Linked DNA regions of Homo sapiens: region 1 is linked to region 2. The links come from fine-mapping of genetic effects on gene expression. Tissue or cell type: prefrontal cortex. Region 2 holds a variant in brackets; the other region holds the start of a gene. All regions are shown on one strand. Distances are between the middles of the regions.

The links. PIP is the estimated chance that this variant, and not a neighbour inherited with it, causes the effect. A credible set is the group of variants that fine-mapping cannot tell apart.
Region 1: GRM5-AS1 starts here. The variant in region 2 is the best candidate, but not a certain one, in a credible set for the expression of GRM5-AS1 in prefrontal cortex (BrainSeq, PIP 0.78).

Annotation. Positions count from the first base shown.
Region 1 is chr11:88,502,283-88,507,674 of GRCh38, reverse strand. It overlaps GRM5-AS1 (GRM5 antisense RNA 1), which reads right to left and starts at 3,099. Exons shown (of 6, transcript NR_049724.1): 1 at 1-3,099. It overlaps GRM5 (glutamate metabotropic receptor 5), which reads left to right. Exons shown (of 10, transcript NM_001143831.3): 10 at 1-3,033.
Region 2 is chr11:88,522,961-88,528,352 of GRCh38, reverse strand. GRM5 (glutamate metabotropic receptor 5) reads left to right here. Exons shown (of 10, transcript NM_001143831.3): 9 at 2,949-3,044. It overlaps GRM5-AS1 (GRM5 antisense RNA 1), which reads right to left. Exons shown (of 6, transcript NR_049724.1): 5 at 5,386-5,392; 6 at 4,299-4,351. Among named protein-coding and RNA genes, the nearest start is that of GRM5-AS1, 21 kb to the right of the region's middle. The variant G/A (reference allele first, on the strand shown) is at 2,832.

The sequences.
Region 1 (5,392 bases), 21 kb after region 2:
GGCCACTCTTTAGGAATGCTGTTGCGTTTGCATTGCCAACTAAAATATTAAAATATGCATTGGGGCTTCTTCATTCCTTTATTTTGAGAACCTGATGCACAAAGAGCTCCTTTGTTCTTTTCGAGTCCCACCACTGGAAGAGTGGTCCATAGACCCCATGAAGACATTGTCATGATTTGAGAGACTGTTGTTGAAAGGATTAACACAATCTTAATACACTGAAAATTTTAACTGTGTCAAGTCAGCTTAGTGGAGATTTAGCTATGCCAGTGAGCAGTGATTTTAACTATTCTTGGCTGCTTAAACAGGGCAGCTATGAACTATGACAAATGTAGATTTTTCAAAGCAATACAAAATACTAAAAAAGAGGAACCTTAATGAATATTAACCACACAGTCTTTCTTAGCCATTCCAAAAAGAGGCAAAGCAATTCTTATTTTCTTTTTTAAAATAATGATTAATATGATTTTGTGCACTTCATACTGTCACTTTTTAAAACTACAGAAAAGAGATTTAGAGTATAACAGAAACAAGTGTGCTTTGATAGTCTCAAATAGGTAGAATTCATAGTTCAAGACCTGAATCCACTGTCATCTCTTTCTTCCTCCCATTGCAGCTATCCTCAGGTACCAAATGTTTTGATTTTTAAATAAGGATAGTAATAAATGGAGGAGGTGTCCTATAAATTTAAAGTTCAGTTGACCCAGCCTTATACTTAAGATAGCCTTATGAAAAATATGTGCTGTGAGGCAGAAGTATATTTTGGCAGAGAGAATAATAAATAAAACTTTTTCTTTTAGCTCAATATCCTTACTTTGGTAAGTATTTTTTTTTATTTCACATCTACTTAACAGAAAATAAACTGAGAAATAGAAGTCAGTCCATTGGCATAATTTATCATTCTTCACTTTAAAAAATTCTAATAAATATTCTGCTTGAGTTTTCTTTTCTGCTATTTGTTCTTACTTGCAACTTTAAGTCAAACCTCCCAATACAAAACATTAAAAGCTAACATTAATGTACTAAAGTATTAATTTAAAAGAAATCGAACCTCCCATGCTAGATTTGAAAATAACATCATCACAGCACCCTGATCCCAAATATTACACCGAGGCTTTTAAAATGTAAGTGAAATCTAGCTAAGTTTCATGGTTTCATTAAAAGCAAATGTCTGCCTCTATCTGAAAAACAAATGGAAATCTTTTGAGGTGTTAATACCCTTTGGATCCTCATCAAAAGGATGGCATTCACCTGAGGATTCCTATCTTGACTTCTTAGGTATTAAAAACCTTTCTTGATATGCTCTACATTTTAAAATTTGTTTTATAAAATCCTTATGTTGATTTTCATTTTATTCTCAAGTACAATACGTTTCACTCTAGACCAGTTGAAGAACATGTTTAAACTTTGTTCATGGTCAAATTCATTTTCTATTTTTTTAGTAACATATCTCTTAAAAAGCACACTACCTTATAAAAAACTTCATCAGAAATTAAATTTAATGCAAGTAAATTGCCATCTGATACTTCCACATGCTATCATAATCAACTGTAATAATAAAAATGATTTATCCAATTAGAAAAGGACAAGATATATTTTTCTCTGTATTTCTATAACTTTTGCCACTCCATTGAATACATTGTATGTTGGACATAAGATTATTAGTAATGCATTCTTGAGATCTTTTATTTTGGAATGATGCTAACTCTGTCTCTTTGCCAATTCTAATACCAGGTTCCAAGTAATAACTCTACAGTACAAAGAGAACTGAATATTCATTCTAGGGCTATAGGATATGAACTTCACAATTCATTTGGGTACATTCTCATTGAATTTCCTTCAAAACAATCTGTTCCTGGTGCCCAGTGATAATTCAGTCGGGACCAGCATGACTAAAAGGAAGGGGATATGCTAAGGCTCAGCAAAGTGACCCTAAATGAGAGATATGTCCCAGGATGGAAAGAAGAAGACGTGGTTTAACCAAGTTATACTGACTAATCTAAGCAGTCCACTCATCCTTCCATTTTGGGAAAGGAGTGGGGGCAGCCTAAGAAGAACATATCTGGATTGGGAAGAACCGTCTTTCTGGGCTAGGGATGGGGAACAGAAAGGGAGTATGGAAAGAAAAATTATAAGAGATTTGACTGAAGCAAGGAAAAAAAGCAAATCCCCAAACGTGCTAATCCTTGAAAGTAACTATCTTTCCCAAACTACTGCTGTTACCAGCAAGTGATCAGGAAGACTAGGAGCTATTTCTGACTGTAAATGAATTGTATAATAGCTCTGCTGCAGTTCTGTGACTTCCAAGCCAGGAATTAAATGCTCTTTTTAAGAATAACAAAAAACAAAAGCATTTCCTATGCTAGTCTCCCAGTAAAATGTACATGTTTTGGAGACTTCAAAGGTATTATGTGAGTTCACATTTAGCAACAGCTTATTAATAACCCTCAAGCTGTCAGAATCTCTATAGTTACCATTTACAATTTTATACTGTGAAAAAATACAGATCAGTGAAAGCATAAAGACAAGTCAGAATTCACTTTGAAGAGGGTCTGAGGCCTGGGAGAGTCTCTACTGTCTATTGAAGAATGAGGCATGTATAAAATAGTTGGTTGAATTTCACTGATCTTCCCAATGTGAACAAATATACTATGTATATTGTGTGTATTTCTAGAAATCAATGGCAGCTGCTGATGGTGTTGTAATTAGAAATCTATATAGATTATAGATGTTTTAGAAAGATGGTGCCAATCCTAAAAGATTTGTGTGGGCTAAAAGTGCTTGTACTTACTTTTTTCTGCACTTATAACTGATTTGGTTTTAAAATTGTGTGCGTGTATCTGTTCTTTCTCTGTTGTGGCAGCTTGTACTATTAAAATAATAGAGAATGTTAAATTATTTTGATGTGAACTGCAAATGATTTTTTTTCATAAAGTTTAACATTTTTATCAGCATTGTTTTGCTTTGTACTTGTATAAATATGTTTTATTTTAGCACTTCAAAATATACTTGCCTGTTTCTCAGTTGTCTAAATCATGTTGTACTTGGTGTTTGTGAAGCCAGTTACTTTTCAAAAAAATTAAAAAACCTATAATATGATTTTAAGATTATTCCCCTCAAATGTTTAGAATGTTGTCTTAATAGTGTTTTCTGAGATGAAAAGAGCCATGATACTAATTAATCTTGAATACTGGATGATCTATACATTTGAATTATGGGGTTTACAAAGTAAGCAGTGGACTGTATAGATTTAAATGAAAATATAAACCAACCACAAACCAACCAGAGATGTTGTCCCCAAACACATCTACAAACAACTGTTACATAAAGAAGTACTTAAAAAAATATATAGGAAATATGCATTGTTTATGCATCTAGACATACAAATTATAGAAATAGTTTCATAATTATATGTGTTGATAGAGGTAACATCACACAGATAAAATAGATTATTTGTGTGTGTATAGATGTGTGTTTACAAACATACATATTTATATAGACATTTGACTTTTGAGTCCATCTGCATGTGTCTCTGTGTATATGTGTGTTTGTGTGTAGATGTATGTGCATATTACATAATTTTTCCAGAAAAAAAAAAAGTTTTACTTTGACTGATTCTTGAGCAAATATACATTCCCTGGACACAAATTAGTGAAAAACTAACAGCAGAATATAAGGTAGATGCTTGATGTATGGAAGAGAAAAACAAGGTATATTTAAAAATATATTTGATTTATGCTTCTGACATTGTATTAAATGCATAATGATATATATACATATGTAGATACATATATTATACAGAATGTGTTTGATCTTAACAAAGAAAGCCATTTTATCTGTTTTGTCAGACTCTTCCCTTCAGTATCTTTTATTCTAACGTGATATGAATGGTAATATGTTCACATAAAATTGAGGATGAAGTGACATATACAAACCAGGTACAGGAAATTACCTTCTAAAAATCCAAAGAGCCTTATCAGACTCCATCAAATTATGGAAGGCCATTTAAAACCAGCGGATGCAATAGAAATAGCATTGAATTAAAAGCCAGGATCTCTTACCTGTCACCAACTGACTTTGGATAAATCACTCTGATTTCTCTACAACTTGTTCCTCTTGCTTTAAATGCAGAAGTGAGTTACAATAATCTGTGAAGTTTCTATCATTTCAACATTCCTGATAAATGCTCAATAGTAGCTATTATTAGTGTCAATGTAGTATTTAGTATACAGTTAATATTCAGCAGGAAGCTTAAATTTGTTATATCAATGTTATTTGTGGAGCTTAACAAGTTCCTGTCCAACTTAAAGCATATATCCTGGAGGAAACCTATTGAGGTTTGAACTCATATGCAACCTTGGAACTGTCTATCAAGGACAACTTAGTAAATTGATATTGAACACCACAGAGAGAATGCTTTTCCTCTGTTATAATTGCTGCTGAATGCTGGCCAAGTTTTTGGTTATGCTGTACATGAATGATCAGTTTTAGAACATAAACAATTTGCAAATATTTACTTTGTATGATAGCTAGGCAGAAAGGTAGGTAAGCACATAGATAGGCAGAATTATATTAATGAAGTTATCTCCTTAAGCAAAAGCTTGGTATTTACATTTTCTCTCACAGTATTTTAAAACTCAGAATCAGTTATTACATCTCACTCTGTTTATTACTTTTAGGTTATTATGTTAGTAAATAAGTTCTATGAAGAGAATGTTTAAACTCATCTTCTCCAGCCACTCTTAGAATCCTGAACCAAAAGTTTCCAGGAACACTTAACCTCCACTAGAATAAATGTTTTAAATTACTGTTACACCAGGACAAAGACATTTATTTTTGCCAGGACATAAGTCTCTTTGAGGTATGATCTATATACAGGATACCTATGTGATATACATATCAGACACTTTGGCTTATTTATGTATAGCTTGTATTTTTATTCATTGACATTAAAAATAAAAATTTTCATACTATCAGATTTCTATGATGAGATAGATGTTATATTTTAAATTATACAAATTCTATGTCCGTGAAAACCACATAATAAATTGTGGCTTTTCTGAACTGCTGAATAGTAATAGGTGATTCATAAAAGTTCTTAGAGTCTTAAAAGTTTGAAAAATGTAGTAATTCCAAATTAAATGGCTATCTTCACTTCGGAAGTTACCAATTTATAGTATTCTTTTTTTTTTTTTTTGAGACGGAGTCTCGCTTTGTAGCCCAGGCTGGAGTGCAGTGGCGTGCAGTGGCGCGATCTCGGCTCACTGCAAGCTCCGCCTCCCGGGTTCACACCATTCTCCCTCCTCAGCCTCCCAAGAAGCTGGGACTATAGGCGCCCACCACATCGCCGGCTAATTTTTTGTATTTTTAGTAGAGACGGGGTTTCACCATT
Region 2 (5,392 bases):
ACAGGTACAGACAGGCAAGTAGGGTCCTATCTGAAAGCAATGATGAGTTTCCCATTCTGTATTAATGCCATTTTCAGCTTGCATTGAATACAAAAACTGCTTGAAAGTTCCAAAAAGTCTAAGATATTGCTCACATTTTTAAAATGAGTTTTGTTATTATTGTTTTGAATTTTCATTATTTTGTTTTTTATATGTCAGTGAAAGCTTTTACCAAAAGCAGTTAGGTTTTGTTTTTGTTTTTTGTTTTGTTTCTATGGTTTTTCTAAACTTTTAGGTTCAGGGGTATATGTGCAGGTTTGTTTTATAGGTAAGTTGTGTTTTGCAGGGGTATAATATGCAGATTATTTCATCACCCAGGTAATAAGTATAGAATCTGGTAGGTAGTTTTTTGATCCTCACTCTCCTCCCACCCTCCACCCTCATGGAGGCCCCAGTGTCTATTTTTCCCTTTGTGTCCATGCGTACTCAGTGTTAAGCTCCCATTGATAAATGAAAACATGAAGTACTTGGTTTTCTGTTTCTCCATTAGTTTGGTTAGGATAATGCCCTCCTGTGCTATTCATGTGTAAAGGACATGATCTCATTCTTTTTATGACTGCATAGTATTCTATGATGTATATGTACCACATTTTCTTTATCCATTTTACCGTTGATGGGCATTTAGGTTGATTCCATGACTTTGTTATAGTGAATAGTGCTGCAGTGAACATATACATGGATGTGTTTTTATGATAGAGAGATTTATATTCCTTTAGGTATATGACCAGTAATGGGATTTCTGGGTCAAATGGTAGTTCTGCTTTAAGTTCTTTGAGAAATTGCCAAGCTGATTTCCACAGTGGCTGAACTAATTTCCATTCCCACTAGCAGTGTGTAAGCATTCCTTTTTCTTCACAGAGGTTAGAGTTTGATAGAATAAGATGCTTAGGATCTATTCCATATTTCATAAACAGAGGTCACCTGGCAGAGTGTGTGTGGTCATGAGAGAAAGAAAGAAAGAGAAGAGCTTATAAGCATGAAGACTGTAGGTTTCTTAACTCATCTATGAAATATTTAATGATTAATTCACAATTAGCCTAACAGAAGATATTCAAAAATATGTTAAGGATCCCTTTGTAAGGAAGTGAATGACCACCAATAATTTATTATTCTATCAATATTCTTTTAATTTGAGCTGTCGAGCAGTATTTTGCTTGAGCAATCCAATTCACAAAGAAGCACAAAATACTTTGCATTGAAACATTGAGCATCATTTGGCCATTGGTACTTCTAAGGTATTTTCTTGGTAAAATTAAGTCTACTCAATCTAGCTTGGTCTGATGATTTACCTCCTTTAACAAAGTCTCTAAGTTCTTTTCCTCTCTTCTTTATGCCTACATCTAAAATTACTTGTGTACGTATTTCTTATTTCCTTCCTTCTCCTACTGTTAGGTAAATTCTAACAGGTGGGGCCTGCAGATTACTTATCTTTACATCTGTAGTGCAAAGTCCATTACCTAGGATTTAATAAATGCTCAACTAATGTCCGTTAAATAGGTAATCCATTAAATTCATTTTGCTTGATGTAATAAGCCATTTTTCTTCAAATACTAGATACTTTAAACATTTTAGAAGGGAAAAAAAATTAAGAGGAAGGCCTCTGCCCCAGGATCAATAATGATGTTGACTTTGTTGCATTTTATTTTATTTTATACTACTTTTGAAACAGCAGGAAAATAAACTAAAAAGAGTGTGACTGTACTGAGATAAACAAGTCTTATTATAGTAACTCCCTTTATCATAGCCTACTGGATACCAGGAAGGTGGATGAAGTGGTGTTATACCAGGCTCCAGTTTAATTAGGGAAAAGGTAATAAAACCTTAAGAGCTCTGGGCCCCTGCAAGCTCTACAGGTGGTTATTCTCTACTGATGAGGCTTGTGACTTTCATGAAGTCAGTTAAGTAAATCTAGCTTCCTCATCTGGCAAATGGAAATAACAGTTCTTTTTTAAAAACCTTACAGAATCGAACCAATGAGTAAAAGAGGTTATTTCTGTGAAATCATGTTAGCTCAAAAAACTGTCATTGAGATACAAGAACTCATCTTGATGCACCACGTAGAAGAGTAATATTGGGAATCTCATCACTTATTTTAGATGAAATATCTGGTATCTTCAAAGCGCGGTGAACTGCCAATTATAATACAAAAATAATGGCGGCATCCCAATACTGACAGTAAAACTTCAGCTTAATGTTTACAGAAACTTTTAATATCCAAAGAACATGTCTTCTCTCCTCTGTTATTGCCAATGTCTAACAACATCCAGAATGGTATCACTCAATGAGGGCTTGCTCAAGATAATAATTAGCTTAAAAACTTGATAATGGAAGGCAACACATTATAATGGCTGAAGTGTGGGTTCTAAACTTAGATTCCCTGTATTCAAAATCCAGCCCAACCACTTATTTAATTAACTAATCTTTGATTAATTTGCTTAACCTCTATAATCTTAGGTTTCTTCATCAGTAAAATGGAAATGATAACAAAGCCTCTGGCCCAGGGCTGTTGCCTGGATACAATTTAGGTAAAGTTCTAGCATAGTGTCTGACACATGGTAAGCACTGAATAGATTCTAATGTGTTGATTGATATTCATCTTTTTCTAAGATGCTAGAAATTGCACACCTTTACCATTGACTATTAAATGTGACATATTCAGTTTAATAGGCAATGTGAAAGAATGGGTTACATGTGGTTTAACCAAAAAGTAACAACGTCATCCCTGATGTTGTCCATATGCCATCACATTCATCTAATAAGTATCACAGGTTGGTCATTGCATTGAGAAGCAG[G/A]AACCCCCATTTTGGCACAGAGTGACCATCTCCACAGTCACGGCCGTTCCTCAGCCTGGCAGTTAAGCACACAATCACGTCTTTCTGTTTGCTCCTGTCCTTGTTCATGCTCACCAGGTACAAAGACAGGAGACTGGCCCAGCACAAGTCGGAAATAGAGTGTTTCACCCCCAAAGGGAGTATGGGGAATGGTGGGAGAGCAACAATGAGCAGGTAAGCAAACTATGAGTGGCCTGAGGTGGTGTGAAATAAATGTATGCAAGCTAGAGGAACATGTGGCTCCCTGGTCTGGGTCCTCACTCAACTGTGCAACTCATACAGTGTGTCCAACCCAGGCTACTACTGGTTTTCTATGTGTGTTTGATTTGCAAAACCTATGACACCCTCATGTGTAGTAATGGGAGCCTCCTGTCCCAGATGCTGCTGTTTCCCAGGGTTGTGCGCTTTGCATGTCTGAAGCCTTAGCTCACAGTCAGTCCTCCTCTGGGTTTTAACTTATTGGTCAAACGGTTCTGGAGTTTGCAAAGTGGAAGAGATTGGAGGAAACTCATATTTCAGGGCTATCCAATCACTTAATAAAACAAATACAAAGCTTAGAACTGGTTTTAAGGAAAGGATTACTATTGAAGGAAGACTCCAGCCCCTGATCCTGGACAAGCCTGGAAATTAATATACCTTACTTTGAATGTAACATCATCTCACAGCCAAGGGCAAATGCCTTGCCAAACTAGTGGACTGTAGAGACAAGTGGCTTTTCTCAAACTGAAATCAGGAAAGCTAATCCTCCTCTAGCTACCATAGCTTTGCATCTCCTTTGCTTCCTTGTGTTTGGTGATGAACATTCTCTGTCGCTGTGCTGTGCATGTTCTTTTATACTAGGCACTCCTGATTGAGTTGTACCTAGTAAACCGGAGTATTTGGAAGTATAAGCATTAACTAAGCTGTGTTGCATGAAATAAACGTGCTTTATTGCATGGGATTTGGTTTTAAGAAAAGGGCCCTGGGGCCGGGCGCATTGGCTCACGCCTGTAATCCCAACACTTTGGGAGGCCAAGGCGGGTGGATCAGCTGAGGTCAGGAGTTCAAGAACAGCCTAGCCAATGTGGTGAAACCCCGTCTCTACTAAAAACACAAAAATTAGCCGGGCATGGTGGCACACGCTTGTAATTCCAGCTACTCAGGAGACTGAGGCCAGAGGACTGCTTGAACCCAGGAGGCAGAGGTTGCAGTGAGTTGATAACATGCCATTGCACTCCAACCTGGGCAACGAGAGTGAAAACTGTCTCAAAAAAAAAAAAAAAAAAAAAGAAAGAAAGAAAGAAAGAAAGAAAAAGAAAAAAGAAAAGAAAAGGGCCCTGGAGACAAAGTCAAGATTGACATTAAACAGTTCCAGAATGTTGAAGGAGCCTTGAGTTGAGGAGTCACTTGCCATGACTTAACTCTTCACTTCTAATTTGTTGTGACATTTCTCAATCCATCTGTGGTGTAGAGGTATGGAAGGAAAACTTTTGCAAATCATCCTGGATTAGAGAAAAGGAAAAATTCAATAAGTAGAGTATGTGCATATGCATGTCCATGTGCTGAGAGCAGAGCTTGAGACCTAATTGCATAACAAGAAGATAATCCTGTTGAAATTTCACCACAAACATTTTGTTTGCTTCCTCAGTGGTGGGCTCCTTCCTATTTTCAAAATAATAACTACATTTTTCCAAGGCCCACCATATTGCACAACTGCTGGTGGACTATTCATATTGCAGTCTATGAAAATGGTGCCCAGAACTGTTCAGCATACAGTTTGAGCAATCATTCACAACAGTCCTGGCCAAGGGCTTGGCCAACTTTGTCTATGGTTCTCAGAGACAAGGCAATGATAGTGTGTGTACATGTGTAGGCATATATGTGTGTACTTTGGTGTATCTGATGGCCTTATGCCTACAATCCCTTTATACAGCTATCTTTGGATCTCAGTGCATCTGCAAAATGAGTCTCAGAGGATCATTTTGTGGAAGTGACTCAACAGAATGCTATTGGGGCTCCTATTTTCCTTCCACTTAGATATAACAAAGTAGCATAATTCATATCCTTGAAAATTAGGCAAACAGCACCAGAGTAAGCTGGACAAGGTTAAAGTGACTTCACCAAATGAGTGCTCAAGGGCTCTTCCCAGAGTGACTTCTAATTTGAGGTCTAAAACTGGAGTTCCCAAACCTGGCAAACTTAGCTGACTATCAAACAGACTGAGGCAAAATATTGGGCAATACAACTTAGGAATCTGTCATGTAACAAGTTTCCTAGGTCATCTCAAAGAAGCCAGTGCATGAACTGATATTTTAGAGTAATCCATTCATGTAGGAGATGACATGGAGCTGTTTGTGGCAAGCATTTGGTCTCAATTATGCAATTCGATGCTCTTAGCAGTGTTTAGTCAATACTTAGAGCTTTAGATCTGATCATCACAGAAATTAAATTTGCTCAAGGCTGTCTTAATTGAGAATGAGGGGAAAGGGACAGAGAGGGTAGTACACAGAGAGTAGGAGATCCCAGATAAACATACCAGGCTT